Linked DNA regions of Homo sapiens. The protein of the gene in region 2 interacts with the protein of the main gene of each other region in a pairwise test. Each region holds a gene or a part of one and is shown on either strand. Other genes may lie near its edges.

Region 1 (3,500 bases), on a different chromosome or scaffold from region 2:
AGGACACTCTGCATTTCCCCTTCTACTCCTCCTTCATTCCCGCCCTTCCTCCAGGAGTGGGCCCTTATCACACACAATAAAGTCAATCATCACAGTGCCCTCCTTAGAATAGCACTTTATAGACCACAGAGTACTTCTATGATCCACCAACTTTTTACCCATCCTGATCTAACTCAGGAGACTCCCTGAAGCTGGAGGAGGCTCAATCCCACTCTCCTCCAGCCCACCCTGCCCCATCCCCAGAGGAAATATTGCAAGTGGTTATGTTACTAGGAAACATTCTCTTTCATACTGCACAGGCCTTAAACACGCCCTAGGAGCTGTTTGGTCTTGTACTGGTCAGCAGGCAGCCCCTCCCCCACCATGAGAAGAACAAGGTTGCTGGGCTTTGCTAGGACATCCTGTCCTCCTTGGTGGCCCTTGGCTCCACTGGAGGATCTTGGCTCCAGAGGAATAGGCAAAGAAATGGTCTACATGTGACCACCCTCTTTCCTTCAGGCTTTGAATCCCTTCTTGATGTCAATTTGGCCTTCATAGGCCTGGGGGGCCCCCCATATCTGGCCATATGACTGGTGGCTCCATTGCCTATGGCCAATTCTGAAGGCAGGGATGTTAGGCAGATCAATAATATGCGAGGGGAGTAGGTCCTGGGAGCCCCCAGTTAAGTGCTTATCACCTCCCCGATGCACATGCATGCCAGTGGCTTTGTCCTGTCCATACCCTGATTTCTCCCCGTAGGCAGAGTGTTGAAGGAGGGGTGGTAGGGTAGAGGGAATAGCAAAGACATTCTGCTCTCTATTTCCTCTTCTGCTCCTCCCTCGCATCTCCCTCTTCTCTGGGGGTGGACCCTTATAGCACACACAGTAAATGATTCCTGATTAAGCAAAGCCATAGTTGTCTGACAGCCATATAATCAGTAGGACTTGATTCTGTCCTGATGCCATCATTTGTCTGTTGGCCTGCCTGGATCCTAGGACTAAGCTAGAGAAAGGAAATAGAAATATGAGTCCTTATCTGGGTCCCAACAGTTAATAGGCTATAGACCTCTTAAGCACTTATCTTTGGAGATTTTATCTCTGGTGTTTCACAGTGAGAGGGAGTACGGATAAAACCCTGTAGGACCAGAAAGCAGAAGAGAAATGAGAGTCTTGTCCACGTGGGCAGGGTGCTCATGGTCCCTGCCAGGCCCTGGTTGCAGGGCATTGGCTGCAGCTCCTTCCTTCCAGAAATATCTGCTCTCCACTGAACTGTTAGCATAGCTCTGCTCATGGGGCTGAAATACCTGCAGACTTACTCCTCAGATATCAAAGGACCAGAGAGATAGAGAGTTTCTGGCCCAGTCCACTAAATTCACATGTGGGGAAATAATATTGAGCAAGGCCTAGAGGCCAGATGACTGGTCTACAGTAAAGGCACATGCCAGCAAGTGAATGGATCCAAACTGCCATGCAAGCCTCTGCCTCCAGGGGCAGGGCTCTTTCCTCTCCCGTGGGGCCTCTATCCATGCTGTTCTTCCCCTGTACCTCCAGCCCTGTCTTCTCTTGTTTTAACAGGTGAGCGTGATCTTAACTCTGATGGTGCCATATTATACCATTGACACGGAATCCCCACTCATGGAGATGTTTGTGGCTCATGGGTTCTATGCTGCCAAATTCGTAGTGGCCATTGGGTCGGTTGCAGGACTGACAGTCAGCTTGCTGGGGTCCCTCTTCCCGATGCCGAGGGTCATTTATGCCATGGCTGGTGACGGGCTCCTTTTCAGGTAAGGGCTATGCTCCATGAAATTTATCCTGCTCTGCCACGTCTGTCCAGGGAGAATGTCTACCCACTGTCAGACTGACTGTGATTTTGACATCAGTGCCTTTCACATGGACTGTGGACCTTGTTATGTATCCTGAAGAAAAGTCTGAGTAACAGAGCTCAGGCCCTGAAGCAGCCCCTAGTTTAACTCTGCAGTCCCTTAATCCAGCACAAGCTGATGTGTGTCCCCCCACTGTCCTCCCTCCTGTCGACATTGCGTGCTCCTTTGTGAAGATGATGGGGCCAAACTGCTGTACTGGGTGGCCTCCAGAAGGAAGAACCATCCTAGGGACATCTTAGGCCTGCCCTCACATTGAGGCCTGGTAACTGCCCCACTCTCCACAGCCCCTCTGAAAATGAAAAAAAAAAAAAGTCAACAAAGAGTAGATAAGACCCTCTGAACAGATCCTAACAATACCTGCAACACCAGCTGCCATTTATTGAACATTTGTGTGTCCTGGGTGCTGTGTATACAGTATCCCATTTAGTCCTCACAGTAACTCTATTTTGCATATGAAGTCTACTAGGACTCAGAGAGGTGAAACAAAATTGCCACAAATCCCTCAGCTACTGAGTGGCAGGTCAGGATTTGATCCCAGAACATCCGACTCCAAAAATCAGACTTTTAACCACACCAATATATTGGCAGTTCTTGCCCCCTACATTGGCCATGAAGTGGCCCATCTGCCCATGGTACAAAGGGGATGTGGCCCCAGCCCTTTGTTTCCAGCATGAGGGGCCTGCTGAGAAGGCATTCTTCAAGTGCACAAAGCAAGGAGTAAACCGTGGAGGCCAAGGAGCTCTCAGGTGTGCAGAGGGGGCCGGTTCAGGGACTTTGTCTCTGCAGACATCATCTTCTGACTCATTTCCCCTGCATACTCTCTGAAGCCATCACCAGATCAGAGCTGCTGTGATTAGGTTGCCGAACAGATCAAGAGGGGCCTAGGGTGATGGAGGCGTGGGAACTTCACACATCCAAAAGATTTTTCTGCTGTCAAAGAAACTAACAGGAAAGATACTGGGGCTTCAAACACATTTACAGTCTTGTGTGAACCATAAAAATAAGGGACCAGGAGGAGAGGGGAGAGGAGAGGGAGCCTATTGCACATGCCATTCAGTCGCTCTTCTTGGTCTCTTCTTCAGTCAGTAACTAGCTGGACATAAATCTGTATCTACGAGCACAGTTTCTCAATTACTGTGCTATTTTGCCAACTAAACCCATGAACTTTTGTTATAGGTGGTGTCTCAAGCTTTGGCATAAATCAGAATCCTCTGGAGGTCTTTTAAAGCAGTTTGCTAGGCCTCACCCTACTATGATTCTGGTATAGTAGTTATTGGGTGAAACCTGAGAATATACATTTCTAACAAGCTCCAAGAGAATGCTAAGATGCTAGTTCACAGGTCAGGAGGACCCCCAAGCAGGTCCATGACTTCCTCCAACCATCACTTTTTCACGCAGAGCCTGGGCTTCAATCTAGGTTTCTGAAAGACAGACCTCCTAGGTTCAATCAACCCTTCCCATTACATAATGATTAGGAACTTTACTAAAGAACTTTGCCTTAAAATCAAAGAACTAGTCTAGGCACAGTGGCTCACACCTATAATCCCAACACTCTGGGAGGCTGAGGTGGGTGAATCATGAGGTCAGGAGTTCGAGACCAGCCTGGTCAACATGGTGAAACTCTGTCTCTACTAAAAAT
Region 2 (3,971 bases):
CTCAGGTGATGCACCCGCCTCAGCCTCCCAAAGTGCTGGGATTACAGGTGTGAGCCACCCCACCTATCCGACTTTTCCCCTTTCTCGTTCCTCTGCTTTGTATGTTTTTTGAGAGGAGCACCGCGAAGCCCTGACCCCTCCTCCCGGCGCCCCGCCGCGGCCACCTGTCTCCGCTCCGCCCCGCCCGCTCACAGGTCTCCGCGCAGCCTCGCTCACCTGTGTCCGCCTCCGCCCCCTCCCCCGACCGCTCACCTGTGCCCGCCCCGCCCCCACCCTGCCCGCTCACCAGTTTCCACCCCGCCCCCTCCCCGCCCACCGGTGTCCGCCCCGCCCACCGGTGCCCGCCCCGCCCACCGGTGTCCGCCCCGCCCACCGGTGTCCGCCCCGCCCACCTGTCTTCGCCCCGCCCCCTGTCTCCGCCCCGCCCCCCTGTCTCCGCCCCGCCCCGCCTGCTCACTTGTGTCCGCCCCCGCCCCGCCAGCCCACCTGTCCCCGCCCCGCCCGCTCACCTGTGTGCGCACTGCACCCCGTGGCTGCCTGCCGGGCAGGGCAGCTCGCAGCGCGCTCCGCGGAAGCCGGGCGGGCAGGTGCACTCGCCGGAGGCGGCGCTGCAGCGGCCCCGCACACACTCGCACTGCTGCTGGCATTCGGGACCCCACCAGCCCGGCCGGCAGGCGCAGCGGCCGGAGTCCTGCTCGCACGGGGAGCCGTGGCAGTTGCAGCGGAAGCTGCAGCGGCGCCCCCACCAGCCCGGCTTGCACACGCAGGCGCCCGTGGCCTGCTCGCAGCGCGCCGCCGCGGTGTTGCACTGGCACGGGCGGCGGCACGTGGACGACCACCAGCCGGGTTCGCAGTGGCACACGCCGGTCGCGGGGTCGCAGCGCCCGTGGGGGCCGCAGGCGCACGGGAACTCGCAGCGGGCTCCCCAGCGGTCGGCCTGGCACTGGCACGCGCCCGTGGCTGGCTCGCACTGGCCGTGCGGGTGGCAGGGGCAGCTCTCACGGCAGTCGGGGCCCCAGTACTGGCCCGGGCAGCCTGCGGGGGTGGGGACGGGAGGGGTCAGCGGGCTCAGGGCCGCGCGCAGACCCTTACCCTGCGTCCCCTTCCTCAAGGAAAAGGGGCGCTGGGCCCATCCTCCAAGAGCCGGGGACAGACCCTCAGAACATCCGGCAGCCTGTCCTGGGCAACACTCACTTCCTGCTCCGCTCTGACCTACAGAAAACCCTTAGCCATTAGTGGGAGGCTCAGCCTGCCACTTCACATTCCAGAACACACTCAGAGATCCTGAGTGGGCAGGGGACTTGCCCAGAGCGTGGCACCGAGGTTGGTGGGCCTTCCTCCATGCCTGCTCCTCCCTGCCGAGATGGATCTCTGCTGGGCTGGAGGAGAGCTGGCTTTCTCCTGATCTCAGGCCTGGATACTGCCCGCCAGGGTGTCGGGAGAAGCCACCTTTCCCCTAGTGATTCCTTGATTCCTGATGCCCACCCTCTGGCTCTCCTGCTTCCCAACCCCTTTCCCTTCCCTCTCTTTCTGCCAGAGAGGGCAGAGAGCCCAGCCAGGGGCCCCCTTCCATCCACTGCCCATGTATAAGGTATATGTGGGAAAGGCAAGTAATACACTCATTTTACAATGAAGGGGAATCACAGGTTTTCTGAGAAGTGGAAGAGGAAGATGCTCAGGTGGGCAGTGCTTTGTGGATGTGGGTAAAAACCCGGTGACTCAGGTCATCTCCCGGGAGTGTGTGTCACTTCCTGTCTCTGGACCGCAATTCCTCAGTGAAGCTGGGGGGGATTCTGGCCCTGCTGTCCTGAGGCTGCATGGCTACCTGCCTCGCCTGCTCCCACACCACTGCCCCCGTACCCAGCTCTGCCCAGCAACTTCATCTGGCCCTTGAGACTCACGGGAGCTGCAGTGGGCCCCAAAGAATCCAGGCTTGCATCGACAGAGGCCCGGCTTCACACACACCTCGTCTTTCTGGCAGGCGTCCGGCCCCTCACAGATGGCTGAAAGACACCCCACCCAGGTTGGAAAGACGGGAGCAGGACCAGGGGACACCCCTGCCCTCTCACTGGCTCCAGGGGCCATGCCTCCTCAAGAGGTGCCCCTTCAGGCCTGGGGGTGCGTCACAGGAGAAACCCTGACTCCTGGTATCAGGAGGGGCAGGCCCCATGGGGTAGGAAGGAAGGGTTGTCACTGGGCTACGGCCTCCCTTCTCCTTGGCTGAGGGTCTGTCCTGGCTACTCACGGATGGTGCATTCTTGATCCTTCTGCCTCCAGCCTGCGCAGCACTGCAGCTCAGCAGAGGGGCTGTGGGGCAAAAAGGGGTCAGCCGGACATGGTGGGGGGTGCAGCCTGGCCCTGAGGAAGGTGGATCACTGTCTCTGGCTGCAGTGGGGGAGGCTGCCTTAGCCCCCTGGGGAGGCCTAATGGATCTTTACAGCTAGGGTCCCCAGCCCCTCCCCTCTCCTTCCCTGACCCTTCCACCATCTGCCCTGGCTGGCCACTACCTGCCAGACCGCCATCAGCAGTCCCTTCCTTTCAGCCTAAGCCCCCTTCCTAGTCTCCTCCTTCCCCTAACGGCCTCAACACCGGTTCAGCCACCCGCATCAGACTCCCACGAGACCCACCTGCTGGCCACACGCATCAGACTCCCACGAGACCCACCTGCTGGCCACACAGACGTGCTGCCCTTTGGGGTCCAGCTCGGACCCCTGAGTCCCCCGAGTCCAGAGCAGCAGCAGCGGGAGCAGCAGCCCCAGCCCCATGGCAGGCAGCTCGGTGGGAGCGCTCGGGTTCGTCTGGCCCCCACAGCTCCCAACCCCCTCCCTGCTTCCTCTCAGGGCTTTTCCTGAGGAAACCAGGCCGGAGGGGCGGGCTGCCACGAGGCACCTCCCTGAGAGGGAGGGGGTGGCTGGAAAGACTGACACTCAAAAAAAGAAAGGGAAAGAAAGGCAATGGCAGGGCTGACTGGCCTGGGCCTGGAAGGGCCAGAAGAATGAAGTTGCAGGTCCCTGGGTGCCGGGGCCAGGGAAGGGGGTGGACTGAGGCTGGGAGCCACGGCTTTCCATCAGGCCACACTCCCAAAGCAAGGCCTGAGCTGCAAGAAGCCACCCCACCCAGTGACTGAGCAAGGAGACCAGCGAGGACCCCTCAGCCTGCCTCTGCTCCTGGCAGGGTTGGGAGGTGGCACAGACATGGACAGACAGGCGAGGAACAGTTTCTGTGTATTACGGGCAGTTCTTTATTACATGAGCTCAGGCCGTCTGCACAAAGCCCTGGGAGCTAGGCAGTCAGCTCTCATTTCATGGATGGGGAAACTGAGACTCAGAGAGGCACTCTTATATCTGGCCCCAGAGGCTCGGTACAGAGACGTAGAGAGGGAGGCGGGCTGAGACCCCGTCCTGCCCTGATGCAGGCCAGGATTGGGGCAGACCCCTGGCGAGGGCTGTGAAGGCGGGAGCCCTGTCCTCATTTGAGGCCACACATCCTTCCACAGCCAGACCCCTAAGTCAGGCCTCTGGGGCGGCTGAGGCCCCCAGACAAAGGTGTTCGTGGAGGGCAGAACAGGGCGGATCAGGAGCTGGAGACTGTGGTTGGGCCTCCTCTTCTCCCCCTAGCTTGCTGGGTGCAGGGCTGCTGGTCTCATCCTCAGAGGATTCAGCTTTACCCCGATACCATAGGCCAAAGCTGGAGAGAGACAGCCAGAGGCACTTTGAGCCAGGAAGCCAGAGAGGTCAAGGATATGGGTGAGGGCAGGGGATGGTGAGAAAAGGGGAGAGGGGGAAGAAAGGGCAGCCTGAGGGAGTGTGAAGGTGATGGGGGCCAGGGCCAGAGAAGCAGGAGGGGACGGTGTGCTTAGAGCCAAGCACAGCAGGGTGACGGGCAGAGAAGCGGGAAAGGGGATCCTGAGAAGGACCAGCCAGGGCCCTTCCTCCCTCCCCACACTCTTGCCTTTCCCCTTTCCCCAACAT

The links.
Region 1: the proteins of SCARF1 (region 2) and SLC7A14 interact in binary tests that used the Homo sapiens proteins (3 or more experiments, as listed by UniProt).

What each region holds. Positions count from the first base shown.
Region 1 is NC_000003.12:170,481,576-170,485,075, reverse strand, and holds part of SLC7A14 (solute carrier family 7 member 14), read left to right. Parts: intron 1-1,553; coding exon 1,554-1,762; intron 1,763-3,500. UniProt on the Homo sapiens protein: Imports 4-aminobutanoate (GABA) into lysosomes. May act as a GABA sensor that regulates mTORC2-dependent INS signaling and gluconeogenesis. The transport mechanism and substrate selectivity remain to be elucidated.
Region 2 is NC_000017.11:1,642,933-1,646,903, forward strand, and holds the start of SCARF1 (scavenger receptor class F member 1 isoform 1 precursor), read right to left. Parts: upstream 2,801-3,971; 5' UTR 2,766-2,800; coding exon 2,665-2,765; exon of another isoform or gene 2,628-2,664; intron 2,308-2,627; coding exon 2,246-2,307; intron 2,004-2,245; coding exon 1,902-2,003; intron 1,036-1,901; coding exon 510-1,035; intron 1-509. Other genes in the region: RILP (rab-interacting lysosomal protein), read right to left, coding at 3,510-3,687. UniProt on the Homo sapiens protein: Mediates the binding and degradation of acetylated low density lipoprotein (Ac-LDL). Mediates heterophilic interactions, suggesting a function as adhesion protein. Plays a role in the regulation of neurite-like outgrowth.